Regions from separate parts of the Homo sapiens genome. Here regions 1 and 3 are each linked to region 2. Evidence: fine-mapped expression QTL. A gene starts in region 2. Each other region holds a variant in brackets. All regions are shown on one strand. Distances are from middle to middle.

Region 1 (11,074 bases), 50 kb after region 2:
CTCAATAGATTATTAATAAATGTTCCTTGAGTAGGTCAGAAAGATCCTCTGGGAGAGACAGCAATAGGGCGGTGAACTTTCTTTGCACCGCAAGGGGGAAGGGCGGTCGTGAGACCCACCCACCAAGTGCAGGACTCGGGGTCTGTGAAGTCTCCACTGTGCGGTGTGGTCTAAGAGCATCCACGACAGTGTCTGTCGGGCTTTCTGTTCTTTGTTACTGTGGCTGTCAGTGAGAAAGACGTCAGGCTCTCGCACCCCCGTTCTACTTTCTGTTCTCTGAATGGGACTACTCCAGGGACTCATTTAAATGGAATTGCAGTGTTTCTCCTTTGTGTCTGACTCTCTCCTCTTAGCGTCATGTCTTCGTGGTTCATCCATGTAGCAGTATGTGAAGGAATTTCCTTCCTTTCAAAGGCTGAGTGGTATTCCATGGAATGTACAGGCCACGATCTGCTTATCAGTTCATCTGGGCATGAACTTTTGTTCCATCTACAGTGCCTGACATCCCAGGCACGCGAGTGCACACCCATCCCCACACCAGGATACAAAAGCCTCCCAAAGCCTTTCCTACAGGCAATGCCCCTGGGTATTCTCTATTCTATATGATTTTGTTTTTAAAATGCCAGCAGGAGCCCACTTGATTTCATGAACAACTAAAGCAATTCCCTGTTTGATTTCCTGTTTGAAGCCACTGTTCTGAAGAACACAGACTGCAGGAAGCTGTTCTGGGCCATCCCCGCATGCAGCGCAGCACATATGACATGAGGCACTACAGTGGCGGGGAAAATTGCATTTTAAGCACTGATACAATATTAGAAAAGACAAAACTTTGAAAATTAAGGAGGTAAGTGACTGGCCTCTAAAGACAGAAAAATAATGCAGTTAAAGAAAATGGAAGGAAGGGGGAAATAGAGGCAGGCATCCAGATGAGGGCTGCAGCAAAGGAAGAAGCCAAAGACAGTAAAAGAATGCCCCAGAGAGACGCAAGCAATTAAAGGGGAGCAGGGAGGACCCCTGTGCGCCGGCTGCTTACTTCGTCCCAGACACTCCCCCAGGCCCTGAGGACTCAGGTGGAGCCACTGACATGGCTGACCCCTGGCACTACCTCTCAGCTCCTGGTCATCCTCAAAGCATCCCAGGAGGCCGGCTTCCAGACCTCCACTCTACAGGTAAAGAAATGAAGACTGACGGAGGTCAAGCTTGCTCGAGGTCCCTCAGCCGGGAGTGGCACAGGGAGGATGTAAGCCCAGACCGCCTGTACTTCCAGGACCCATCTTCCTTCTCTGCTGTGGCCACCTCCACCCAGCCCAGGGGACAGCACACCCCACTCGAGAGCTTCCATCTCCTGGCACCAACCAGCAAAACAGGGCAAAACCCTGAAAGTTCTTGGTGCATTGCAACTGGGCGTTTGCAGTGACTGCTGGCCTGTGTGGAGAGACTAGGGGAAGAATCTCAGAGCAGCAGCTTGTCGGGGAATGTGGAGGGGAGGACTCCAGAAGAGGTGAAAGTCATGTGCGTGCCTCAACCCTGGAGTGGGAGCTCCCCAGGAAGGGGAGGGGGCTGAGGTCAGTGACTCCTAGATTTGAGCAGGTATTGCTGACTGGTGGGTTGGATCAGAAATGATCTGGGACTGTAATAGCTTCTTGGGCTCCTGCATATGATACAGAAAGTATGAAACAGGGCCAGGAATCTGTATTTTTTACCTCTCACCCCCATTCTGATGCTCAGCCAGGGCTGGAATGGAGCCCTCCTAAGCCTGTAGTTGCCCTGCTGCATAGGTATATCCACCAGCAACTTGCCAGGATGGGTCCAGAAAGCAGGCTCACGGGCTACTCGAGCCCAGAGGTGGGGGCAGTGCAATCACAGGGGCTGGGTGGATGGAGAAGGCCCACAGTGGCAGCTTCGGCTGGGAGCAGCATCTCTGCACTGTGTCACTTGTACCCCAGCCTCTCTCCCAGCTGTTCCCCTCACTGCTCAGAGCTCAGCGTGCAAGAAGGGTCCTCCACTGTGCTCTTACAAGGCTTCTGAGACCTGGGATGGCCTGCTGGGCCTCAGATCCCTCGGGGAGGCCATTGCGGGGCTCTTGCCTGTAGCCCGCAAACACCCTTGTTTAGCGTCCTTCTGCCTTTAGGATGGGACTAAGACAGCATTGCCTCTCTCTCGCAAAGGACAAGTGGGTTTTCTCACATTTGCTGGAACAGTGGACAGGAGTACCCTGTGGACAGATCAAGGCTCTATTTGCTGAGTCCTGTCTTTCAGCTGAATTGGAGCAACCGTTAGACTCAGTGACAGGTAGCACATGGTCAAGGTGACCAGGGACAGAGACCTTGCCCAGACCCTGTTCACTTGAAATAACAAGGATTTTCCTCCACTCATTTCCTGGGATACCAAAACAGAATGGTTCCTTGTGCCAGAAGGGAAGGTCCGATCCCCTTGGCAGATCCTGTGTCATTACGAGTTTTATTGGGTTCAATGTCATAAAACACCACAGCCATGGAGACCTATAAAATGCCCCAAACATTTCCCTTGCAAAAGTCAGACCAAGGAGTTGAATTATTTCCAAGGTGCAGGCTTCTCCGAGTGATGGGAGACTCTGAATCCACCTGGGTCGGGCCCAGCTGCTCCATTACCCCAAGCCCCCTTCACACAGGGTTCTCATGCAGTGCGCGGCGGTGGTGTGGACTGCCCGCCAACCACACTTAAATCACATGGAATTCAATAAACGTCCACAACCTGTTCTGAGCACCACTCTATAACTCTGGCTAACTATTTAGAAGGCACTTTGGGAATGCAATGCCTCAAAGGCCTCCCTGGATCACTTGGTATGAATTTTGCAGCCCAAGGTGCAATCTTGTACGAGTCACTTCATCTCATTGCTTCTGTCTCTGTGCAGCGAGGGCTGTGGGTGGATGATCTCTGAGTTGCCTCCAGCCCTAACATTCAGGGGCTATGATTGCATCGCAGATTTAGGGGATGCTGAGGGACAGACAGCCTGGGCTCTGCTCACAGCTGCAGAGAAAAAGTGTGCAGCCTGGAGATGGTCCAGCCCTGGCACTCTCATGCCCTAAAGGAGCCTGGGGGTAACACAGGGCTCCATCAGGAATGATGCTCTGGTTTCTCTTCGTCTCTCCACTCCCTCTCAGTCTCCACTATGGTCCACGAATCACCAAGGTCTTCATTGCTGCCAGCATCAGCCTTGTACCCCTGCTTTTCCATCTCCCCCTTCCTACCATCCACTCCCACTTCAAGACACAGAGGTCCTAGTTCATCAGCCAACTGCGTGTGGTGCATTGAGGACAAGCCCTGGGACCCAGCATGCTCTGTAAGGCTCAAGGCCAGAGACCAATCTAGGCCGTGGGCATGGACAGTAGGGATCTCGTAGGAGGATAAAACAAGAAAAGTAAATATTTTATCAAGGACAAAAAAGAACTTCAAGAGACTCTTGCTTCAGACTTCCATGAATAAATAATTCTTTTAGAAAGGCAATCATGTTATGTGGCCCGTAAGACCTTAAAATTGAATAATCTGACCAGCCGCGGTGGCTCACGCCTGTAATCCCAGCAGTCTGGGAGGCCGAAGCGGGCAGATCACTTGAGGTCAGGAGTTTGAGTCCAGCCTGGCCAACACAGTGAAACCCCATCTCTACTAAAAATACAATAATTAGCTGGGCATGGTGGTGGGTGGCGCCTGTAGTCCCAGCTACTCAAGAGGCTGAGACAGCAGAATCACTTGAACCCAGGAGGGGGAGGTTGCGGTGAGCCGAGATTGTGCCACTGCACTCCAGCCTGGGTGACAGAGCAAGACTCTGTCTCAAACAAACAAACAAACAAACAAACAAAACCAGAAGCCTGTGTAATTTGCAGTAAAATTTTAAAATCTCTCTGAGCCTCAATGGCTTTATCTATAAAGTAGAGGGTGGAAATATGTTTTCTGCCTGCCTTAAAGGATCAAATTGATAATACTAAAATAATTTGTAAAACATGAAGTCCCATGTAAAAATCTCTGTTGAGACCCAATTGAACCTAAATGATTAGAACTGTTGGGCTTTCAGACTATCCACATCTGTGTCAGATGGCTGACATGTCGTCAGAGTGATTTCAGGGTGGGGTTTAGGATGAGGAATTTTACGTGCTTATAATGATATTGGCTAGACCTTGTTAAGAGATCATAACAAGTTCTGGAAAAGAGCTAAACAAACAACACAGTTTTCTGTGGTGTCCTCCACAGGTCTGCTTGAAGAACTAGTCTTCGTTCACGAGGTCATCCACACATCACCAACTCTGTACCCATTAAGTCATCCCTTCTTCTGATCCCACAGCGCTTCTTACAGACCAGTAGCATAGAACTTGCGTGTCTGCCTTCTAAACCAGACTCCTCCTGAGCTCTTCAAGGAAAAGCCATTTTGTTTGTTTGGTTGTTTATCTTTGTATTTTCAGGCCCCATCTTACCACTTGATACATTGTAGACATGCAGTAAATCTTTCTCTTCTTTGAACGAATAAATTAAATAATCAAACAATCACAGAAAACCCAAACGTAAGAAAATGCTTACTTTTCCACCTCCCGACAGCATCCACTGCCAGAAAGAGTAAATAGTTTCATTTACCAAGACAATGGTGGAAAGATGTCATTCATACTCCCAACCAGTGTTATCCTAAATATTGATTATGGATCATTAGCCAATACTTTGGGGTCAAGAGGGCACATTGATCTCATGTTGAATGTTGCACTACATCTAAGACGCCCAAAATGAAAATATAATTTTCTCCTTTTTGTTGCATGACTGTTTGCCGTATTTCAGGAAGTCCATCCCCTTTAAAGACTGCTAGTTTTCAACAATAATAAGTGGGAAACCTAGCAGAGATTCCCAGAGGAAGAAAGGAGAAGAGAAATTGAATTACACCCCATGTTCTTTGCTCCAGGTATACACACTTGTGTTTAAGGAAATTTAAGACAGAATTTCTAAGAGAGAAAGCAAATCAAACTTTTTTAGGAAGTCAAACCCGCTGACTGGTGCCAGAGTTTGTTGTTAACAGAAACTGATTTTTTTTTTAATACTTTAAGTTTTAGGGTACATGTGCACAACATACAGGTTTGTTACATATGTATACATGTGCCATGTTGGTGTGCTGCACCCATTAACTGGTCATTTAGCATTAGGTATATCTCCTAATGCTATCCCTCCCCGCTCTCCCCACCCCACAACAGGCCCCGGTGTGTGATGTTCCCCTTCCTGTGTCCATGTGTTCTCATTGCTGTGTGAAGACAAAAGACCGAGCTGTATTCAGGAATTCAATGAGCTGAAGTCTCCCACTCCGTTGGGTGGAACTTTTGGGTTTGGTCTCTTGAATTTCAAGGTTTCTTTGGCTCCTTCAGCCTCAAATAGTAACATTTCAGTTTGGTAAACACAGCTCACCTCCTATGGTGAGTGTTTGTAGCAGGAAAGAACAATTAACTAACCACAAATATTTGTGTGTCAGTCTGACTCCCTGGTGAGAAATGCAAAGCTTACGGGGATCCATGTGTTTTAAAATGCCAAAGCATTTCCTTTAGTTAAGAACCACGGACGGCCATAATCAAGGCAGAATCTCGTACTTTAACACATTAGCAATTAGCTTTGGTTAAAAAAGTAGAAATAGAAGCAACTGCCTTAACAAAGAGGCACTTTATTTATGTATTTATTTATTTATTTATTTATTTATTTATTTATTTATTTATTTGAGATGGAGTCTCTGTCATCCTGGCTGGAGTACAGTGGCGCTATCCCGGGGATAATATATTCCCTATCCCATTACTGGACCTCTGTATGTAGGCAAAGATCTTTCGATTTCTTTCATTTCAATCTCGGATTCCCAGAAAGGGGGAAAGAGACAGAGAGAGAAAGCTGGGTTTTTTAAAAAACATTTTTGGGGCCACAGCCCCCGTTGAGAACCTGATGGAACTACAGACACTATCCCTATAAAATACACTTATCACAAACATGCCAAATTTTGTGCTCAGCTTCAGGACCTCTCCCCCGACAAAGCCCCACAATCATTCATGGACTTCTGATTAGAAACCCTGGTTTAGATGATGGGACAAATGTACCCAAAGCCTTGGGGTTTGTTTCCTTATGAGTCATTTCATTTCACAGAGAGGAAAGTCTGCTCTCTGGCCAAAGACCACACCAGTAACCCTGGCCAGCAAATATGGCCGTCAAGGAGCTGGAGAAAAGAGATGAAAAACTCAAGTCACTATCACACTGACTTTAAACGCAATTTAAAGCTTACCCCACGCCAGCCCCCAAATGAATGTTTCATCTCCCCATATCATCGTAATTCCTTGAAGGGATTAGGAAAGAACACTCTCCAGCTCCACGATGTAATTCAGAATGACTTTGCAAGCTGCATTTATTTTTTCAATCATCACCTGCTATGGTGATACAAAAATATGGAAGCAAACGAAACACCTGATTGAAATGGTGATAGAGTTCACACAGTGAAATATTATGCAGGCCCAAAAATGATCATTTTGAGTCCTCAAAAGTGATCAAAAGTAGCAGTGGGAAAGATGCTTATGTTATAATAAAAAGAAAGAAAAAGAAAAGAGAAGAATCTAAGGTGCTATGTCTTTATGATTCCAGCAATGAAAACTGCGCATCAGATAAATCAAAATGGGTAGCTCTTAGGTAAAAGTGTTAGGTTGCCAGTGTTATTGATGGTTTATATCTATTTTCAAAATTTTCTAGGGTATTATATAATGTTTACAGTTTAAAAGTCAGGAGAAAATGACACATCTGTACAAAATCAGCCTGTTCTTCCAAGTGGCTGTGGCCAGACTGCCCCTCTAAGTGGTCCAGCTCTTTCTGTGGCTTCTCTGGTGATTAGGCTGAAAAGGCAGCCGGGTCGCCACAGACCCGGCAGAGCACCCCCAGGCTTAGACAACCACAGAACCCGAGCTGGGAGACTGGAAACACTGGCAAGGGCGCAGTCACATCCCAGCGCCCACCCTGCTTCCTATCAGCCCCCGTGCAGTTCAAGTCTGCCGCACAGAGACTGGCTCATGGAAGCTGGTGAGGCATTTCCATGTCTAAATCCACGTGGGCCTCTGATTTTTGGATTCACGTCATCCATGAATTGGCTGTGAGTCAGATATCAATGACCTGTCCAGGGCAACAGCCCTGTGGATGGTGGATGGTAAAGTCCCTGGGCTGCCAAGCCCCAGGCCTGGCTGGCTTCTTGCTGGCATCAGCTGATGCTGGAAACCGAGCTGGGGTCCCGATGACATCCCTTCGGGTGCTGTGAGGTTAGCTGCTCCCACAGCAGCCACCGAGAGAGAGGATTGCCAACTTTTCGTGCGGTGTAACCTAAAGGAGGGGTAGCAGCTTCAACAGTTAGGCAGCCACTGTGACCTGGTTAAGGGTTATGGTCAGCACCTGAGTCATTGTTGTGATGCCTCCTAAGTAATAGCAGTGCCAGCTGCATGCAGCTCATGGCCTGCTTGCTCCCCACAGGCTGGGCTGCTAACGACCTCCCTTGCCTGCAGCTGGGGGGAATTGATGAGTAGGAGGCACAAAAGGCGCCCAGCATTTCCTTCCCAAAGCTCTCAGTGGATGGGCAGGCACCTCCCTCGAGCCCTGAGAAAACCCCTCCACCACGGCTCCTCTGGCCTCTGCAAATGTCAGTTGCT[C/T]CCTTGTCTGATGGCCCCAAAGGGCAGGACCGGCCCCCATCACAGTTGCGTTTGGGTCAGAAGGAGAGATGGGTGCACACAGCTGACACTACAGTGGCTGTCTTATTTCTGCCGCCCGAGGCCCAGCACAGTGTCTGGCTTTCTGCACATCCCCGTAAGTAATGATTGACTAGTGACAGTTCCAATTCCAGGAGACCCGAAGGCAGAGGGAATGCGGGAGAGGACTGACATGAAGTACCTTCTGGTATAGGGTGGTCAGAAGTGGAAAGCAAGGAAGAAGTGAAAAGCCACGGGTGGGGGCTGGAGCTACTGCGTGGACAGGAATGTGGCTCACCAAGAGGGGGCCAAGGAAGGTCCCACACATGATGGCTTCGCCATGGGGCCATGTCTTCAGGCAAACTTGTGCCAGAGCCCCCTAGCGGAGGAAAGCTGTTCTGGATCCCAGGTTTTCTGAGGCCTACAGTCACCTAGCACGCGCCCCATGTGAGCACAGCTTGAGCTCACCCGTTCTTGGCTCTTGATCTACCCCCAGTAGCTGTGCATGTGTCTGCAAGCCACGGGTGATTTCCCAGCATGTGCTTAGCCTTCGCGCCGTGACACGCTTCTCTTGCCTTACAGTAGTGGCAGAGGCGGTGGTTAATGAAGACAGATGGAGGGTTCAGAGCACTGGCTTTGGGGTCAAACAGTCCTGAGCCTGCACTTTGGCTCTAGTCCTTCCCAGCCCTGGGCCAGTGGGCAGGTTCCTGATGACATCACGGGGCTGTTGTGAGGACCACATGACTTTAGGTTTGAGAAGCACCCAAGGCCTGGTGATGACCCCCTACTTGACCAGTGTGCCTGATGTGCCACACAGAGCCACCAAAGGGTGCACTGGAAGGCCGTTGACTCTACCCCCGATTAGCAGTGCTGGGCCCTGAACCCCAGAGAGAGGAAGTCACCCAGCCAGACAGCAAGGCCAGTGCTCACGTGTAGAAATGCTGGCTCGGGGAGAAAACTAGCTTGCCATGGGGTGACTGTCTTTAGCAATCTCTTCCCTGCTCTCCTGGCCTCAGGTTCCCCCTCCAGTCCTAATCCAGGTCACCATCCTGCCTCACTGTCATCTGCACCCTAGGCCTGGCTGATCTTTGGCACCCACTGAGCTGTATGTTGACATGGACCCAGTAACCCCCAAACCCCCAAGCTGGTCCATTGGGACTTTCTGATTCGCCTCTTCTAAATTCCAAGTGCTTGGCCACTCCTTACCTGGACCTTTTATCTCCACTGGGTCCACTAAGCTCCTGTCTCTTCAAAGTTCTTTTAAAGCGTGACTTGCCTTCTTTTAAAAGCTCCCAAAAGCCCTCAGGGTGGGTGGTGTCTTCCCCTGCAGTTGGGGTGGTCATCCCTGCCTTTCTTGAGGGCCATGACAGGCCCGTCCCCTGGGAGGATCCATTAGTGACATCTACATGGTGGTCCAGGCCAGGGCCACTGCAAATCCAGGACCACTCCCAGGGGCAGGGTTTGCCAAGGTGGGAAGGTAGGACATTCTGCCTTATTCTTTTACAATCCTAGTCCATCGTCCTTCCAATTCTAACTAGTTGTCAAGCTGTCCTTCCTCCCTAGCCCGCTTCAGTTTCCTTCCCCACTTCACTCTTCCTCTGCCAAGGGTGTTGTTACTTGGCTCCTGGCCTTGTAAAATCACAGTGTACATTTATACTGCATGTTGGAAAAAACATCAATGTCACAAGCTCAGTGATGCTTACACACTGCTCTGTCAGCAGATGGGACAGGCTACCTGCCTTTCTGAGATTGTTCTTCCTCCTATTTGTTATTTTCCCTACCCGCACCTGAACCATTCACGATGGTTCTGCACCCATTGTCACAGGAAAGCAGAAAGAGAGACAAAAGAACTTTCCTGCTTTCAGCCCGTGATGCAGATCTTTCAGCCCGTGACTGAGAGATCTTGTTGAGTCAGTTTGGGCAACCGCGTCTCAAGTGGCCTCCCTGAGAGTCCCACCTGGGGGGCCCCAGAGTGGGAGGATGCATCCCTCAACCTGGGATGTGGCCTGGAATCTCTGAGAGGGGGCTTGGCCAGGGTCAGAGGCTGACATGACATTCTAGCAGCCCCCTGCATGGACTGATGACAAAGACCAAATAGGCCACCCCAGAATTCCTGAGACTCATGAGGCTCCCAGAACTTAGACCCCACCCTGGAGAAAGGTATGAAGACCCTGAATTGAGAGGTCAGTTTCCTCTCCCCAACAGAGATGTAGCTATTACCAGATAGCTTTTCTGTTTTTGCACACCAAGCTGTGGACTGAGATTCACACTCAACATACGTAAATCCAGTCTGTCAGTCATTCACCTGAGCCCACCCACACCCCTCCAGAGGCCAGGAACGCCCTCATAAGAAGCCTAACCTGCCCTTCCACCTTCCATGAAACTAGTGCCATGGCCAACAGTTACAAGGATTCAGCACATTCTGTTGTTTTCTTTTTTTCTAAAAAATGATAAATGAGCCAACTACATCTTTCTGAGTGTCTTCAGGCTGTGACCTTGGGAAGGCAAAAAGCCCTGGCATTGTCCTCCCCTAGGTCTGCAAATAGGACATAAAACAGCTTCAAGCACATTCAAGGTCACCTTAAAGACACCCCACGATGTGGCAAAGAGACAGCTCCAGAGCCAGGCTGGTAACCTTCTGCGTGACCTCAGGAAAAGCACTCAGCTCTCCAGGTGTGCGGTGGGGAACCAGGATGAAGAGCCACGTGCACCTGGCACCTGGCCCAAAACCTGTTCTACCATCTGCCTCCCTGTTGGGCCCACTGTGGGAAGAGATTTGTCATGCCTGGCGGGGACAGGAGCAGGGCGAGAGGAAGATGGGGAGAGGTCTTATCGGAGGCAGGGACATTAGGACTGGACCTCCAAGGATACATAGAAGCTCTCTGAAGGAGATGGGCATTTCAGGCAGGGAGTGGAGTTGGCAAAAGCTCTGAAGTGTCATGTGTGCCAGGGAGTCCTCAGGGACAGGACAGATGGGCCCAGCGTGCTTGGAGAAGAAAGGAGACCCAGACTGTCCACTCCCTGGAGGCCTCAATGGGAGACTTGGCCCTTGTTCTCAAACACAGAGGAGTTTATGGTGGCTTTACCCTGTGCGGTGATAGGGCCACATTTGAGTTTTAGAAAGACCTTGGCAGCCACACATGGGATGAATTGGAGCATCAGATTCTGAAGACAGAGAAATGAGCTCCAAGGATGCGGAACTGCCCAGTCTAGAAGGGGGAGGGCCTGAACGAAAGCAATGGAGCTTGGGAGCAAATTGGAGAAAGGAGAGAACAAGTGTTATTACAACTTTGCCCTCACTCAGGGACACCGGCCAGAGGCTACAGTTGGCCCTGCATTGAGTTATGAGTGTCCAGGTCACCCTCTGGCTT
Region 2 (10,081 bases):
TGGGCTCCTCAGCGAGGCCCCAGGTCTGCCCCCCCCCAGACCTCCTTAAAGTGCTGTGCTCCCATCCAGTGCTTGCCCACGGTCAGTGGGGGCTGTGAGGGCCAAGAACTGGCTGAGAGGAGCCTGGTGGCATGGAGTCTGTCCGTTTCATCATCTGCAGAAACAGCTTCGTGGTAGTAATGGTGATGCACCCACCCCAGGCTGCTGGAGAATCCACACACTGTAGGTGATCACGCTATGTGAACCGCATCCTTCCTGGCTGGTGGCTGTCCTCACCCAGCACCCCTGCAGCGACTGCCCCCTTTCTGGGGGTTCTCCCACCAAGTCCCCACTCTAATCCTCTGCTGCCCAGACCTGCAGTTTCCCCCACCTACGCCCCCATCCTACCGCTTAAGAGGGGTGTGTGTGAGCACTTTCTGCCTCAGTTTCCACCTCTGTACTGCGGGTGGGTATAGTCCTACCTCGGGGTGTTCTCACAGTCAGAGGAGTCAACACTGACAAGCTGGGTGGCAAGGGTTCAAGGGGAAGGAAGCGGGTGCACAGGTGGAGCCAGGGGGCTTTCAAGTGGGGGACCCAGAACGGTAGGTACAAGTCTCTGCACTTTCCTCTACACCTACGGCATGTACAACAGGCAGCGAGAACCTGGATGCAAAAGGTGGGCTTCGGTTAATGATATTTTATCAGTATTGGCTCATCAGTGATAACAAATGCACCACCATTGCACGATGTTAGTAATAGGGGAAATGGGCGAGATATGGAGACTGTCTACTTAATTCCCACTTTTTTTTTCTGTAAACCTAACTGCTAAAAAAAAAATCGGTCTATTAAAAACAAAACAAAAACATGCCAAGTGAAGAGCCTCCATGTAGTGGGAGCCGCCGACGTTCCTCGCTTTTACGCCCCATCGTCACCCGATCCTTGTTTATGCACCTGGCCTGGGGACTCGGAGCCTCTGGAGCTGGGCTCGCGTCCTAGCCGTCCCCAAAGCGCCGGCCCACAGCGTCAGCCCCTGGCTTTTCCCCGCCCAGAGCTCCCGGCGCGGGCCCGAGCCACGGATTTATGAGGCCACAGCGCCCCCTGCGGGCCCCGCTCAACCGCCGGGAGCCCAGACCACGCGGGACTCCCTGGCTGCGCCACGCCTGCGCCCCGTGCTCGTCCTGCACGCGATGTCCAGCTTGTCACAGGTAACGACACGGAACAGCTCGAACGCTCGTGACTTTATTGCAGAAAAGCCCCGCAGTGCTGGAGCGCAGCCTAGGCTGGGGCTGCCCCTGCTGGCGTCCGCGGGACCCAGTCTGGCTTCTGTAGCGGGGCAGGGCGGGGTCCACGCAGGGCGCAGAGGCGGGGACGCGGCCAGCACGGGGGGTGCCCAGCACGGGGGCCTTACTTGATGACAGTCGCTTACCAGTCCTGAACACCTTACTGGGGCTTAGTACTCCGGATGACCGTGCGAGGTCACTGTTACAGCCCTCTACAAATGAAGCGGCACAGAGAGGCCGCGTAACTCGCCCGGGGGTGCAGTCGGTGAAGGAGTCCGTCCGGGGACCCCCTGCGAAGCTGCCTCTGCCCACTGGATTCCGGGTCTGAGAAAAGGGCACAGGCGACACCCCGCCTTCGCGGCCCGTCTGGGATGGCACGGAAGTCGGGGTCGTCCGCGCAGAGGTGGGCACGGGGCGCAGGCGGGCGCGGCCGGCTAGGGCTGCAGCTCGTACTGCCGCTCGGTGGCCGTGTAGAAGTCCTCCAGCACCGACTGCAGGAACTCGAAGGTGGGCCGCTCCTCGGGCCGGCTGCGCCAGCACTCGGCGATGACGCCGCGGTACAGCTCGGGCGGGCAGGTGTCGGGGCGCGGCATGCGGTAGCCGCGCTCCAGGTTGCGGATGACCTCGGGGTTGCTCATCCCTGCGGCAGAGGAGACCGCAAGCGGGGGTGAGGGGCTGGGGTCCTCGGTGGGTGGGGGGCCCTGAGCGTCCCGCGGGGCACAGTGGGCCCAGGCAAGGGACAGCAGTGCCCACAGTCCCAGACCACTTCTCCAGCCTCGTGCGTTGCCTGGCTGCCCGGTCTCTAAACAGCCCTTTATTTACTTTTTATTGCCTGGGGAATGCCTAGAAATGAGGCTGTAGATTTTCTCCTGAGTACGGGGCAGGTCCTCTGAAGATGGGACCCTCCCTCTCTTGATTACCTGTGACCACCAGGGGCACAGCCAAGCCCATCACTCATGGGCAGCTGCCAGGTGCACACAGCAGCAGGTGACCCGGAGCCTGCCCACCTGTGGGGGCCAAGTGGCTGGAGCCCTTCGACTGGGGCTGGGGGCTGTCGTCCACGATTCTGGCCACACAGGAAGGGGCTTTGGGGAATCCACTATGGGTGCAAAGCCAAGGTAGGCACAACCTGTCCTCAACTGAGAACAAGCCACTGGGAGTAAACTTGAGTTCGGATGTGCCCTTTGTCTTGATTTCAGTTTGAGGGACTCATTTGACCTCTGCTGGAGGAAGGAGACACAGCCCTGTGGCCCAGAGCAATAGTGATGCAGGGGGCAGAGCTCCACCCCAGATGCCATGCCTGGGTCTCCGTCTTCGCTCTGGGACTCACTCTGAAAAGAACAGGGCAGCCACAGGCACCAAGCACAGGCGACCTGCCATCAGGGCCGGCCGGGAAAGCAGGGAGCCGCGAGCTGCGGGGTGAGCCACCTACCTGGGTATGGCACCCGCCCATAAGTGACAACTTCCATCAGGAGGACTCCAAACGACCACACGTCTGCTTTGATGGTGAAGACCCCGAAGTGGATGGCTTCCGGGGCTGTCCACTTGATGGGGAACTTGGCCCCTGTGGGAAAAGCCATGCAAGCTTTGGGAGGCCACGGCCGGTGGCCCCTACCCTCCATCCTCACCCCTACCCCTGCTCCTGCTGTCCTTCCATCAAGCCCCCACTGCGGGGCCTCACAGGGCGGGGCGGCCAGGCATGGCGGGGGAGCCACTACCGCACACCAGGACACATGACCAGGTGAGTGCAGACACGACATCAGCAGCACAGAAAGACGATATGGACACCAATACCACACAGTCACCCACTTTGGTTCTTTAAAAAGAGAGCGATGGCCTCAATGGGCAGCCACCACGTTTCCACCTGGGATGGAAGGGGCCTGTTTCACCTTACAGGGGCCTTGTTTAATTTAAAAGACATGGCCTGGGCAAGCCATTTAAACCTGCGGGCGCCTCCGTTAGTCCCTTCCTGCAAAATGGAAATGGTGACACTTGTACCTCCGAGGGCCGCTATGAGGAAGAACTCACATCCGGCTGCCCTGTGAAGCACCTCAATGGCTGCAGCCCCGGCCAGCATTTGGAGCAGACCTCAGGGCTTGGCACTTCACAGCCTCCCCTGGCCTCCATTTCTCGGTCTCCCCAGCCAGCCTGAAGTTCCCGAGAGAACAAGCCATATCCTGTCTGCTTGTCATCTGACTCATAGGCTCAGCAGACACTGCTTGCTAGCTTGATAAATATATGTGACCCCTTCAGATTCTCTTGTGACGTAGATTTCCACCTCAGTTATATGCACAGAGTAAAACAGTGCTCCGTGGACACCCTAATACAGGTTGGTTTGCTGATCGCACATGAGAGCTGTGTTTCCCACAGTGTGCTCTGTGAAAGCCTAATTCCATGGAAGGTTAATAGGGACTATATAAAAATAGTATTTGGGCATGGCTTACACCTGTCATCCCAGCGCTTTGGGAGGTCAAGGCAGGCAGATCACCTAAATTCAGGAGTTCGAGACCAGCCTGGCCAACATGGTGAAACCCCATCTCTACTAAACATACAAAAATTAGCCAGGTGTAGTGGCACACGCCTGTAATCCCAACTACTTGGGAGGCTGAGGCAGAAGAATTGCTTGAACCCAGGAGGCGGAGGTTGCAGTGAGCCAAGATTGTGCCACTGCACTCCAGCCTGGGTGACAGAGACTCCATCTCAAAAAAAAAAAAAATAGTATTTGGAGCTCAAATTAGTTTGGGAGGCACTAGGTGAGGCAAACATAAACTGTTTCTTTGCTGCAGGACTTCTCAGTGCCTTTAATATGTTGATGTGCACTGGGAATCTCCAAGACAGGGAGTAGGGTGGACTGCTGTTTCTCCAAACCTACCTTATCCTAAAGCTGTTCCTCCATGGGAGGTCTCAGGGCACTACCATTCTGCTGAACACATTTGGGTAAATGAAGGAAATGCTGATCTAGAGCTGTAGAAACCGTATAGCCCTCAGGTGTCTTCCCTCAGGGCTGTGCTGGGAGAAGTTAAAGGCGGCTTTGAGGAGCTGGGAAAGATAAGGCCCTAGGTTTCCCTTGTGGTTAGGGGCTGTGCTTACCCTCTTGGGCCGTGTATTCACTGTCGATGATTCGAGCCAAGCCAAAATCAGCAATTTTGCAGCACAAGGCCTCAGACACCAGGATGTTGGCCGCCCGCAGGTCGCGGTGGATGGAATTCATGCGCTCAATGTATGCCATCCCTTCAGCAATCTGAGGGAACAGGCACATGGTGAAGGACAGCCTGGGGGCCTCCACGCCAAGACCGAGCCCACACTGTGTCCCCCGCACAGCCCCTGTGGGCTGCTGGGGAAGGAGCTGTTTCTTGGATGGAGTAGAAAGGTGACTGTGTTGCTCCTCAGCCGAATAAACTCCTCTCCTAGAAGCCCAGAACAGCAACGCAGCAACGTGGGCATCAGAGACACAGGGGCTACCTGTGCCCCTCCCCCTCCTCGTTCTCGCTCCACACAGCTGTGTCCAAGGGTCTGCAGAGATGGAAGATAGAAGAACACAGGCAGGAGAAAAGGAGAGGGAGGGAGAAGAGAAGAAATGGTAAGGAAGGAGGGGGAGGGGGAGCAGGAGGCAAGGACAGGCAGCTCTCACTGGCTGGCTGGAAGCACAGCTCCTGGAGCTGGAGGCCCTCGGGAAGTCGCTGACCTCTAGCAAGCTGCTTAACCTCCCCGAGGGGCCACAGTCCTGACATGGAACATGAGGGATGTGGTCTCCAGGGCAGGGGGTTGAGGCAAGCATTAGACGAGGTTGATTTGTGACCAAGAACCTCACCCAGCGCCTGCCCCGTGGGGGCACCCAGGGAGCACTGGCAGATCCAGGTGGACAGAGGCTGTGAAGAAGAAGAGACTTGTCTCTCCTCCCCTGATCACCAGCCTGGGCCAGGGATAGCAGCTGGTGCTACTTGGCACCTTTTAGCTGAGGAAACTAAGGCTTTATTCACCCAATCAATGGACGAAGAAACTGAGGCAGAAAGCAGAGACCCCATTTACCTCTTCAGACATGCGACTTCAAGAAGCCAGCACTAGAATTGATTCCACTTCTCCTTATGCTTGCATTTTGTTGGTTTATCTATGAATCCATCCATCTATCCATGCATCCATCCATCCATGCATCCATCCATCCACCCACCCATCCATCCATCAACACATCCATGCATCCATCCATGTATCCATCCATCCATCCATCTATGCATCCTTCCATGTATCCATCCATCCATGGATCCATCCATCCATCCACCCACCCACCCACCCATCCATCCATCCACCCATTCATCCATCCATGCATGCATCCATCCATCCATCCATCCATCCATCCATCCATGCATCCATCCATCCACCCACCCACCCACCCACCCACCCACCCACGCATCCACCCATCCATGCATCCATCCATCCCCTTGCTACACCATGCAATCAATACTCATTTACTAATATGGGACTGTGGGGAATATAAAACTGAGTACTAAATATATCTGGGCAGCATCTAACAGTACTCGTTCTGATAACTAATATTTATTGAACAGTACCAGAAATATATTTTAAAAAATGTTGAGTAGGGCCCAGATCTGCTTTCAAGAAGAAGCTGCCCAGATCTGCTGAGCAAGAACAGTGCTTCCGGGAACACCTGAGCTAAGGGCTCTCTGGCAGTTTCTTGTCCAGGGAAACCTTCATAGAAATGACATTACGCTTGAGCCATGGATGATGATAAGGATTCTGCCAGGTGGGAAGTGTTCAAGGCTTCCTGGGCAGAGGAGGTAGAGGGGTGGCGAGGCATGGGGCATGGGAACCGGTGGCATCTGGCTGCAAAGTGGGGCCCGAGGGATTGTGATTGCAGGGTTCCTGTGGGGTTGGCCAGATCTGGCCTTGGAAGAAAGGTCTGGCGAGACTTTGCATGGCTTCCTATGGAGTAAGAAAAGAAGAGCCCAGAAGGGCCGGGTGTGTGTCTGCTCATGTGTGTGTAAGTTTGCGTGTTTGTGTGTGTGTTTGTGTGTGTGAGTTTGTGAGTTTGTGTAAATGTGTTTGTGTGAGTTTGTGTTTGAGTCTGAGTCTGTGTATTTGTGTGTCTGTGTGAGTTTGTGTGTGTGAGTCTGTGTGTCTGTGTGTGTGTCTGTCTGTGTGTGAGTTTGCGTGTCTGTGTGAGTCTGTGTATGTGTTTGTGTTTGTCCGTGTGTGTGTGAGTCTGTGTTTTTATGTGTGTGAGAGTGTGTGTGTGTACATGTGTGCTTAGAGAGCCATTGGCATGGTCAGCATGTGGTTAGAGGCTGCCCTTCTGGGAAGTTCTGATTTTCTGGCTCCTCACCCCCGATTCTGTGGCTACATCCAGGTATTAAACTCCGATGGCTTTTCACATCCTTTGCCCCTGGGTCACACGAGATTTCCCAAGGGGGTGTAGTGGGGATTGAATAGGAGACAGCGGAGGGTGAGAGAAGGAAGGGGAAAGGAAGCAGCAGCAGTGGGCAGGCTTATCACTGCCCTGGGGTTTGAAGCCGGTTACCAGCACTCATTTTCCAAAACCAGCCTGCCCAGATGGCTGTCTGCCCACCTCAGCGGAAAAAGGCGTTGTGGCATCAGTTCCTGCAGCGGCGCTACTGGGTAAGGCTGGGCGAGGGGCGAGGTGGGAGGGCTGATGTGGGCGGTGGGTGGGAGCGTTTCCTCTCGGTGGCAGCTGTATGTGTGTGTGTATGTGTACGCACGTGTGTGCCTCACAGGCTGACCACAGACCAAAACTTTTCTGCTGAGAGTTCCAGTTTTAACAGGGCCACCAGATGTGCTTCCTGCCAGCTAGAGCTCTCGGCTAAAACCCTCCTCTCCACTCTGCTCTTCACCCCATGGAGTCCAGAAAGTTCTGCATGTGAACGTGAGGGACACTGAGGACCAGTCCTGGGTAGCCAAGGAGGTCCAGCACTCGCAATTCCCTGGTGGCAGAAGGTGGGGCTGTCCTCCAGGGCTCAGAGAAGTCATGTCCCTGGCATCTGTGTGTAGCTCAGGCCTGCCCATCAGCCTGGGGTCGACGCCAGGGCTGTGCAAAGGCTGAGGGCCCCTGGGATGGGAAGTCCTACAGGAGATGTTTGTGGGCACCATCTAAGGAAGAGATGAGGTCACAACAGAACACACTTGCCTGCCGGGTTCAATGGAACTCTTGCTAACTCTGTGTGTTTCCCATGACATTCATTCGCCCTCTCTTCCTTCGGAACAGAATAGCCTCATTCCAACACAGCAGCCCGGGTCTAAGGCTCCATTCCCTGGGCTCCCTCACAGCTGCGTGGGGCAGGAGGCACAGTGGCCAGGGTTTGCAAGTCCAAGTGCAGTGGGTGACCTTGGGGATATCTGCCTAGAGGAAGGTGGCCTTCAGTACCCCCTGACTTCTCCTGCTGGCTGAGAGGATGGGGTGGTAAGGCACGAGCAGCCATTGTGGGCAGCAGGTGGCACATGCCGCCCTTTCTCTGCACCTGGTACTTCACCAACCTGCGCCGACATGTCAATCAGCCTTGGGAGTGACAATCTGCTCCCTTCATCTGTCTTCAGGAAATCCAGCAGGCATCCTAAGAAAAGAGAAGTTGCAAGTGCCCTTCTGCAAAGTGACCCGCCCCTGGTGGTGCCAGCCTCTCTCTGGTGTGAGTGGCTCCCCATGGGCGCGGGAAGTGGGAGTTTGCACCCTCAGATCTCTCGGTGCATCAGGAAGGATCTACCTACTGCTGCCGAGTGCCTTCCACTTTACAAAATGCCAGTCTCAGCACCCCGGGAGGCAGCCAATATACCAGCAGTTGCCCAGAAGTTAGGTTTCAGCCAGGTGCAGGGACCTGTCTGAAGTCACCCAGCCGGGAGCTGGGAGTGGGACCCCAGTTCTGACTCGAAGTTTCATGCCCCTTCTTGTCTTTCCCCCCGTGTTGGCCTCGCTCCCTTGATCCCTGCTGGCAGACACCCTCTGCCTCTGAGGACCAGGCATCAGCAAGAAAGCACCAGAATGGAGAGAACTGTCCCCCAGGTTTGGTGCAGGGGACAAATGCAGCTCCCCCTGGAATCAGAAAGCTGGGAGGGATGGATGCTTGCCCTAGGGGCAGGCTAGAGGCACCCCCAGCACAGCCTCCGACCGGGGGCCCCTTGGTGACAGTTGTTAGGGAGCTATATCAACATGGGCATGTTAGGATCCTATAGGAGCAGTGTGCGGTCAGGGTCATAGGAGGGTGAGAAAGTGGCATGAGAACTTGGCCACGCCGTGGACCTCAGAGGCCATCAAGCCCAACCTCTCTGGCCATCCTTGTAAAATATTCACACAGTTGTAAATGGTTGCATGACCAGGAGGCAGGAGACCTGGATCTAGTACTGTCCCTGCATGCCTGGCCTGGTGTTCGTCTGACTTTGCAATGCTCTGTCCCTCCCAGCAGGCATCAAAGAGTGCTAGGCACAGAAGATGCACTCCAGAAATGCTGTCTGAACTGCTCCTGGGCTGAGAACATGGCTCTGTCAGAACCACTTCACCCTCCTGTTTCTCACCCTCCCTCTGTCCCTCCCCCTCCCTCCATCCCTCCCTGTCCCCACACCGTGCCATGCCCTAGATCTGCAGGACCCCCTGGCCTGGTGAACCCACCGCAGCGGACCCTCCTCCTCCTGCTAAGCCCGGCCCTCCCGCCTCGCTCTGAGGATGCGGCTCTGCGGGGGGCACCACCTCTGGCCATGTACTCGGTGACAATGTAGATGGGCTCCTTGGTGACCACTGCGTAGAGTCGGACCAGCCGCTCGTGCTGCAGAGCCTTCATCACGTTGGCCTCACCCAGAAAGGCTTCTGGAGACATGGTTCCCTCCTTCAGCGTCTTAATGGCCACCTTCATGTTGTTTTTGTAGTAACCTGAGCCCGGGGGAGTGAAGAAGCCAATCAGAAGACAGAGAGCTTGCTCGGAGGTGATCCCTTAACCAAAATCGGGGTAAGTGCCCAGGTGCCACCCCATTCCAGGTGCCAGAGCTGGAACATGCAGTTCCGGAGGCCATGGTTGTGTGGTGCCTACCTTGCGTTCCAGGTCCCTTCTATATGGGGCCTCAGGCAGTGGAGGAATGTACCCTGCCTGGGGGGCATTTCACCTATTTGCCCCACACCCTGGGCCTGTGTCCTTCTGTCCTGCACGGAACCTGTGTCCTTCCCCCACCCCTCCCCTACATAATGAGTCTCTTCTATCACACAATAACTCCTTGGTGGAAATAAGCACACAGCCTGGGGTACACTGGGCAGGAGGATGACGCATGGGGGTCTCCTTCCCTCCTTCTGAAGCCCCATGGCGATCCTGTCCCACTCCTTAAACTATCTGTATCTCCACACTCTCCCTGTACTCCATGAAGTCCCCTGAAGGGCAAAAGACAACTCTACTTGCTTTTCTAGAGGACATGGGCCTTGGCAGGGACCTGGGTACAGCTCCTGCCAAAAGCACCGTGGGCATCAGCCCCAGGTAAGGGAGCACTCATGGACCAGCCCCAGGTAAGGGAGGACTCATGGACCAATCCAGGGATAAAACGGAACACGAGTTTTATATCCTGGTGGGCGGGGGGGGGAAGGGGGCAGGTGTCAGCAGCGATGGAAATGTGAGGACACCAGGCCTGGAGCTTCAGTGACTTGGCCAAAGTCCCACGGCTGCCCTCGGTGTGCACTCAGGCTCTGGAACATCATGGCTCATCACGTTTAACCTCCTGTTTCCATCTGGGTGATGAAAAGCTAAGGGGAGTTAACGCGCCGCTGCAGCTCATTGTCAAAGCCAGCTTCAGGCAGAGAACGAAGGAGGGAGCGACTTCGGGGC
Region 3 (8,013 bases), 71 kb after region 2:
AATAGCTAGCTCACAGGATACTATCAGCATTAAATGGTAGAATGGGTATGAATGGTGGGCATAGAATTGGTGTTTGGTAAAAGCTAATTTCCCATGTGTTTTACAGTACCCTAGCCAGTAGTTAGTTGACTTGGATCTCAGAGCCTCTTCAATGGTGGAAATTTGCTTGGCTATGAAAACTCAGAGGAGTAGAGAACAAGAATAATGGAGGTAACGGGAGAAGGATCCCAACATCTAGAGTGGTGAGTGGTGTCTGGAGTGGTGGGTGGCATCCTGTACACAGCAGTCAAAGGACCAATGGGACCAAGAAGGCTTCTGTGATGACGTCAGAGTCTTGCTGGTCCAGCCAGACACAGTGAGCCACTGGTCAGCTGGTTCCTTTCCACTAGTGTCTTGATATTGGCTTATAAGAGGAAGTCACTCGGTGGGCTCTCTCTTCTCCCTTCATAGTCTTGGATCCTTGAGAGTGGGTGTGGGAGGCAGACAGGGTAGCTTCTACCCCATGGTCCAGAATGTCAGCTTTCTCAAGGAGTTCATTTCCTTGGATTGGACTGAGACAATACTGAGCTATGAGTTGCAGGTTTGACAGGTGTTCATGTCAATAGACGCAGCAACGCAGAGTTCTGGGGTTTTAAGACACTATGGAAATAATCTGTTTCACTTCCCCAAGGGGTTTTGTGAGAATAAATGGATTCATGCATAAAAAGTATCTATTACAGTATTTAGCACATAATAAACTGCAAATACCTGGAAGCTGATGTGAATGTGGCTAATTGCTTTAAATCCCAAAGCTGATCTTCTCCACGTGGTAGCAGAGGGCTCACAACAATGTCCAGAACCCTGGGCCTGCTCAGTCCATGGCAGCTCCTGTTAATTTACTCTTACATTCACTTCCTGATACCTACTACATGGATCCAAACATGAAACATGAGTTCCAAACTCTGCGAGCTTCTGATTTAAAAAGTGACTGATTTGAGATGAGGTAACTTAGTCTTCCTATTTCAATTCAATTAATGCAGCACTGTTTTTCTGAACACCTGCTCTGTGCTAAGCACCTGCTGGAGGCTGGGGATACCAACGCAGCTACACTCCATCCTCCTCTGAGAGTCTCAGCCTAAGGAGCTTGGAGAAGGGGCCTGATAAGCAGATCACTGCAGTGGAGCGTAGTAGATGTAGCCACAGAGGCCTCAACGGGGCACAGTGCTAGACCAGAGGCGGAGGCAATAATTCTATCAGGGGTCACTGGGGGAAGCTGCCAAGGAGAAGGCTTTGAACATGATTCGTGACTAAGACTCCTACAGACTCTCAGAGACAGATCCCTAGGCTGAGTCTTTTACTGAACCAGGATGTTGTGACGCTGCCTGAACCGCCTCTAACATTTTTTCAATAGGGCCTAAATAGCTGACGTTTGGACAACTTTTATATACTTGGACTTGAGGGTATAGAGAATGTAGTGGAGAGCAGGAAACCCAGCATCCTACAAAGAAAATACATGGTCTGTCTACCCAAGGTTAGAGTGGGAGGGGATGTGAGAGTTTGCAGGGAGGTGTGCTGGCCCTTATGTGATCTGTGATAAGACATCACCTTTATGCCCACCCCAACAGACAGAGGTTGGAAAATAACAATACCAGACACACACACACACACACACACACACACACACACACACACACACACACGATTCCAGCAGCCACTCAGAAAGAAAACAAGGAAATGACTTTGCTCATGGGTTCCAGATGTCTGAGCAGAAGTGAAAGTTAATTTCAGCCATTTTCACCCTCACAGTCACGGGCCCATGAGAAAGGCGGAAGAGAGGTGGGGAAAGGACCCCGGGGAGAAGATGGGAACAGTGACACTTGTTAGGGGAGGCTGGGGAGCCTTTTGGTAGAAAACCTCAAAGCGGTTTTCTCAAGGCGGGACTGAGACTAGACCCTAGCTCTGAAACGCCCAGTTCAGCGTTCAGCATCACTGGTTCTGCCATTTATTTTTGTACATTTGAGGTGACTTATGCAAAATTCAGCT[C/T]TCCTTCCATGTGCCTTCACCAGCCTCCTAATATCAGTACATCTCTGATCAAAATCAAAAGCTGTAGGCAATAAAGTAAGTGGAAGAAACATAAAACCAATCCAGTCCAAGATTCACCTCAGAAGGGTCTAAGAAGTTGGCCAATTTCTTTTTGAAGAAAACAAGTATAAAACTAGACAAAATTGTCAGAAACAACAATTTCTGGGTACTAGAAAATGTTTGTTTCTGGGTACTAGAAAAACCAAAAGCAGACAATGATCTGATAAGTGTTTAATCTTAAAAATGGCCTGCATCAGAATGGCCATGAGTCTACGGACATCTTGCCTGAAGCTCCCCAGCCCCTGGCCTGAGTGAGGAAAAGCACAGGTTACCTAATGGGAATGGTGGACTTGGTTTGAGGGCTGTCACTGAAAACCAGTAGCTAGGCAGGGAGCGGTGGCTTAAGCCTGCAATCACAACACTTTGGGAGGCTGAGGGCGGGGCAGATCACTTGAGGTCAGGAGTTCGAGACCAGCCTGGACAACATGGTGAAACCCCATCTCTACTAAAAATACAAAAATTATTTCGGTGTGGTGGTGGGTACCTGTAGTCCTAGCTACTAGGGAGGCTGAGGCACAGGAATCGCTTGAACCCGGGAGGCAGAGGTTGCAGTGAGCTGAGATCGCACCACTGCAATCCAGCCTGGGTGACAGAGCGAGACTCCACCTCAAACATAAATTAAATAAATAAATAGATAAAAAGAAAACTAGTAGCTATACCAGCAGAAGTTGGTAGATTTGGTCTGGGATGGGGGAGATGAGAATCTGCATTTTATGGGTTAAAGTTCATGGAATCAGTTCTAGGGAGAAAATAAAAATCTGCAGCTTTACTGGCTTGAGATTATAGCTTCTTTTCATGGTAGACAGGAGATCAGCCAGAATTGTGATGAGAACTTGGAAGTAAGCAAGCCATGAGAGGGCTGGGACAATAAACTCCCTGCACATCTCTGACTAGGGAAGAAACCCAAAAAGGCAGCAAAAAGTGAGAGCCAAGGGAGACCTGACGATGTGCAAAAATTTTTTTGTTTAGTTTAAAATTTATTTGTTTTTATGTATTTAAGGGGTACAAGTGCATGTTTCTTACAATGCATATATTGCATAGTGGCGAAGTCTGGGTTTTTAGTGTGCCCATCACCTAAATGGTAAACATTGTACCCAATAGGTAGTTTTTTTTTTCCTTCTTTGAGACAGGGTCTCACTCTGTCCCCCAAGCTGGAGTGCCATAATGTAGTCACAGCTCATTACAGCCTTGACTTCCTGGGCTCAAGTGATCCTCTCATCTCAGCCTCCAAGTAGCTGGGACCACAGGCACATGCCACCACACCCAGCTAGTGTTTTGTATTTTTTGTAGAGACAGGGTTTTGCCACAAAAAGTACCTATCGGAACAAATAGGTACTTTTTCAACCCTCACCCCTGTCTCACCCTCCCACCTTCCGTGAGGACTTGTACATGTGAATGTGTTTCTTCGGCCACACACAGCTCTGGCAGCAGAAGATGGGAGGCTTAGTTGTTCAAGGTACCTGAGCATAACTTCTGTCTAAATAATTGTCTCATCATCATATAATACAAGAATAGAGGACACCTTTAGGGAGCCAGACTGAAAAACAAAGAAAAATATTATAATAAAAACTGCACTGTAGTATCAGTGGCTGCACACCATGGAGGAGATTAATTCTGCAATTTAAGTCCAGAAAAGTTACTAAAACAGAAAACCAACAACTTTTAGGAAAGTGAATGGAGTCTAGAATCACTGCAATGTCTAGTTTTCAACCAGAAATTACTAGACATACAATGAAACAGGAAAGTGTGACCAGAAAAACCAACACAGACAGTAGATTAAGACACAACTTCAAAGAAGTTGTTATAGCTATGCTCAAGGAATTAAGGAAAAATGTTCAAAGAATTAAAGAAAATTTTGTTAACAGTGAACCAATAGATACTTTGGATAGATAGATGAAAATTATAAAAAAGGAATCACATGGGATTTCTACAGCTGAAAATTACAAAAATTCACTACATGGGTTCAAGAGCGGATCTGAGACGGCAGAAGAAAGAAGCTGTACATTTGAAGATAGAGCAGAAGTTATGCAATCCAAAGAACAGAGAACGAAAAGTTAAGTAAACAGAGCCTTAGAGACCTGCCAGACAATATAAAGTGTTCAAACACAAATGTAATAGGAGTCCCAAAAGGAGAGGAAAGAGAAAGAGGCACAGAACAATTATTTTTTTAAAAAGTTGAAAAGTCTCCATGTGAGTAAATACCATTAACTTACAGAGTCAAGAAACTGAATAAACCCAAGGTAAAAAACAAAAACAAAAACAAAACAAAAAAAAACTTAAAGAGAATCACACCTAGATGTCATAGTCAAAATGCCAAAAGCCAAATAAAGGAGATAACATTGCAAGCACTAAGAGAAAGAGAGAGAAACAGAGATACATCACATTAAAGACAACATGATTGGTGGTTGACTTCTCATCAGAAATAACGGTGACTGGAAGGTGGTGGAATGACATGTTTAAAGTGCTGAAAGAACAACAAAAACAAGAACAAGAACTTTCACCTACAAATTTACTATCTGATAAAACTACCCTTCAAAAATTGAGGTGAAATAAATATTTTTCCAGATAAACAAAACAGGGAATTTAGTTCTGTTGGACTTACACTACAAGAAAAGTTAAAGGCAGTCCTTTAAAATGAAAGAAATTAATATCAGATAGTAAACCAGTTCACAGAAAGAAAAGAAGAGCACTGGGAATGGTAAGCATGTAGGTAAAGTGAAAATATATAATATAATAAAAATATAAAATGTATATGTATACATTACTTTTTCTTGTCTTATTTTAAAACACACACACAATTATTTAAATCAGAAATTATAATGCCATACTGTGGTTTTATAACTGTGGGTTTATAACACAGTATGGCATATGTACAAATAGAATATACATGACAATAACAGCACAGAGGAGGGAGGGTAAGAAATGAAGCTATAATTGTGCAGTTTTTATTTTTCACCAAAAAAAGTAAATCGGTATGAATTTAAAGTAGATTATGATAAATTGAAGATGCATATTGTAATCCCTGCAGCAACTACTAAGGAAAAAAGATTTAAAGAAACAGAGTTAAAAAAATAAACAGAAGAATTTAAATGGTGTACTAAAAATATTTTAATATAAAAGTAGTTGGCCAAGCATGGTGGCTTACGCATGTAATCCCAGCACTTTGGGAGGCTAATGTAGGAGGATTGCTTGAGCCAGGAGTGCAAGACCAGCCTGGGCAACACGGCAAAACCCTGTCTCTACAAAAAATACAAAAATTAATCGGGAGTAGCTGCGGTCCTAGCTACTCAGGTGTCTGAGATGGAAAGATCATTCGAGCCTGGGAGGTAGAGGTTGCAGTGAGCCATGATTGTGCCACTGCACTCCAGCCTGAGTGACAGAGTGAGACCCTGTCTCAAAGATAAATTAAAAATAAAATAATAAAACTAGTCAAAGAATAATAGAGGAACAAAAAAGACATGACAAGTAGAAAAAATAACAAAATTCTAAATCTAAATCCAAACATAAAAAATTTTATTAAATTTAAAAGAATTAAACACTCCAATCAAAATGCAAAGACTGTTAGACTGAAAAGAAAGCAAGACCCAATTCTATGCTGGCTACAAAAAATAAACTTTAAATTCAAAGACAAACAGATTAAAAGTAAAAGGATCCAAAAAAACTACATACCATGTGAACAATAAATACATTACAACTGGGGTGCCTATATTAATATCAGGCAAAATAGAATTTAAGATAACACATATTACTGGGAAAAAAGGGTGACTTCATAATAAGAAAAGAGCAAGCAATAGCCAGAGCTGTCAAAATTATGTTCATGTACCTTTTTAAAAAGTCCTAAAACACGTGAGGCAAAATCTGACTGAACTAAAAAGTTCAATACACAATATACCAATGATAGTTGAAGATTTTGATAATTTTCTTCCAGTAATTGATAGAACAAGTGGAGAGAAAGTCAGAAAGGATAAAAAAGATCTGAACAACATTATCAAACAACTTGATTAAACTGACATATATTAGCAATCCACCCAGAATATCCATTATTTTCAAGCTTACATAAAACATCACCAGGATAGACCCTATGTAAGCCATAGGGTCTTAAAGAAAGTCTCAATGACTATAAAAGGAGTAAAATTAAACAAAGTATCTTCTCCAACCATAATGGAATTAAATTAGAAATCAATAACAGAAATAATTTTGTTAAATTTATTTGGTGTAAATTTGTTTGGTGTAAATTAAATGACACACTTCTAAATAACCCCAAAGAAGAAATTAAATGAAAAATTAAGAAACACATTGACCTGAGTCAAAATGAAAGTATAGCACATAAAATTTTATGGCAGCAGCTAAAAAATTAGAGGGAAATTTATAGCTATAAATATTAATACTAGAAAAAATACAAGGTTGGTCTACAATCACTGAAAAAGAAGAACAAGTGAAACACAATGTAAGTAAAAGGAAATTAATGAATTAGAGCAGAAATCAATGAAATAGAAGACAAATAAAAAAAGAGATAATCAGTGAAACCAAATATGGGCTTGATAAAACTAGCTATCAACAAAGAAAAGAGAAGATTCTATTTTCATCACAGAATCTCCAGAAATTTCAGGAATTAGAAGTGAGGGTAAGTTTTCACTTCTCTCTCTCGTCTTCTGGAACTTACAGAATGTGTATTTGTTTCACTTGATGCTATACCATAAATCTCATAGGATTTCTTTATTTTTTTAAATTCTTTTTCATGCCTCTGACTGTAATTTCAAATTACTTGTCTTCGAGTTAACTGATTCTTCTGTGCAAGTCTGCTGTTGAAGCTCTCTACTGCATTTTTCATTTCATTGATGGTATCCTGCAACTCCAGAATTTCTGCTTGGTTCTTTTTTTTTTTTTTTTTTTAATTATTTCTATCTCCTGAACATCTCCTTTTGTTCATGTACTCTTTTCCTGAGTTCAGGAACTCTGTTTTCTTGTAACTCACTGAGCTTCTTTAAAATGATATTTTGAATTCTTTGTCAGGAAATTCATAGATCTCAATTTTGAGGGGGTTATTCACTAGATATTTATTGTGTTAATTTGTTGCTGTCATGTTTCCTTGATTTTTTGGTGCACCTTTTACCCTTGCCTTGTGCCTTCACATAAAGGAGTAGCCACCTCTTCCAGACTTTACAAACCAGCTTTGGTAGGAAAAGGCCTTTACCTATGGGTGGGCACAAGGGCACTGGCTGGAAAGGGCGTGAGCAGTGCTGGGTTTGGCACAAGGTCCAGGGATGCTGATTCTAAGGCATGCAGAGGTGCCATTTCTGGGTGCACATGGTGATGCTAGGTCTGGCCAGTGGGCACATGGCCACCATTAGTGATGGGTCTGATTGGTGGGTACATATACAATGCGATGGGGTGCAAGAATGCACATGGTGGTGACTCCAGCCCTGGGGGAGGCATAGTGGTGACTCAGGTCCCAGGAAAGGAGCAGTGATGGCTCTGGCTCTGGAGGGCACAGTGCTATGGACTTTGGGCAGCTCTGTCAGCTAGGATGAGCATTGGCGAAGACTCTGTGGTATTCAGTGGCAAAGGCTGCAGGTGCCTGTTGCAGCAAGCAACAGCAGTAAGGGCTGTTAGTGTCCTCAGTTGTAAAGGTTTCCAGGGTCCTGCTATCCTTTTTTCCTATTGGAGGAAGTTGTGACCAAGGGTGTACCTCTTGGCATCCGAGCTGTGCCAGCTTGGGATTGGGGTGATGCAAATGAAATGCTTCCAGCAGTTTTCTCCGTGGCTGTCCTCTGTTATTGCAATCCACTGGGGTGTTGCAGCTTTCTAATTATACTTTGGAGTTCTCTCAGAGCCATTTTCATACATGGGTAGTTGTTAAATCATAGTTGTTATGGGTGAACAGGGGTGGGA

Evidence for each region.
Region 1: its variant is fine-mapped to the expression of BLK-AS1 in whole blood (TOPMed, PIP 0.93).
Region 3: its variant is fine-mapped to the expression of BLK-AS1 in blood mononuclear cells (TOPMed, PIP above 0.99).

Annotation. Positions count from the first base shown.
Region 1 is chr8:11,505,420-11,516,493 of GRCh38, reverse strand. All of the region lies in intron 1 of BLK (BLK proto-oncogene, Src family tyrosine kinase), which reads right to left. Among named protein-coding and RNA genes, the nearest start is that of BLK, 17 kb to the right of the region's middle. RefSeq lists enhancers at 8,339-8,568, 9,632-9,691. The variant C/T (reference allele first, on the strand shown) is at 7,668.
Region 2 is chr8:11,555,721-11,565,801 of GRCh38, reverse strand. It overlaps BLK-AS1 (BLK antisense RNA 1), which reads left to right and starts at 7,537. Exons shown (of 5, transcript XR_948956.3): 1 at 7,537-7,912; 2 at 9,141-9,736; 3 at 9,940-10,081. BLK (BLK proto-oncogene, Src family tyrosine kinase) reads right to left here. Exons shown (of 13, transcript NM_001715.3): 9 at 8,965-9,144; 10 at 7,764-7,840; 11 at 4,350-4,500; 12 at 2,692-2,823; 13 at 1,203-1,899. The coding sequence ends at 1,694. RefSeq lists a silencer at 1,002-1,101 and enhancers at 2,382-2,431, 7,078-7,367.
Region 3 is chr8:11,485,939-11,493,951 of GRCh38, reverse strand. No RefSeq gene overlaps it. Among named protein-coding and RNA genes, the nearest start is that of BLK, 4.4 kb to the left of the region's middle. RefSeq lists cis regulatory regions at 1-872, 946-2,206, enhancers at 1,634-1,783, 7,451-7,570 and a silencer at 7,961-8,013. The variant C/T (reference allele first, on the strand shown) is at 2,023.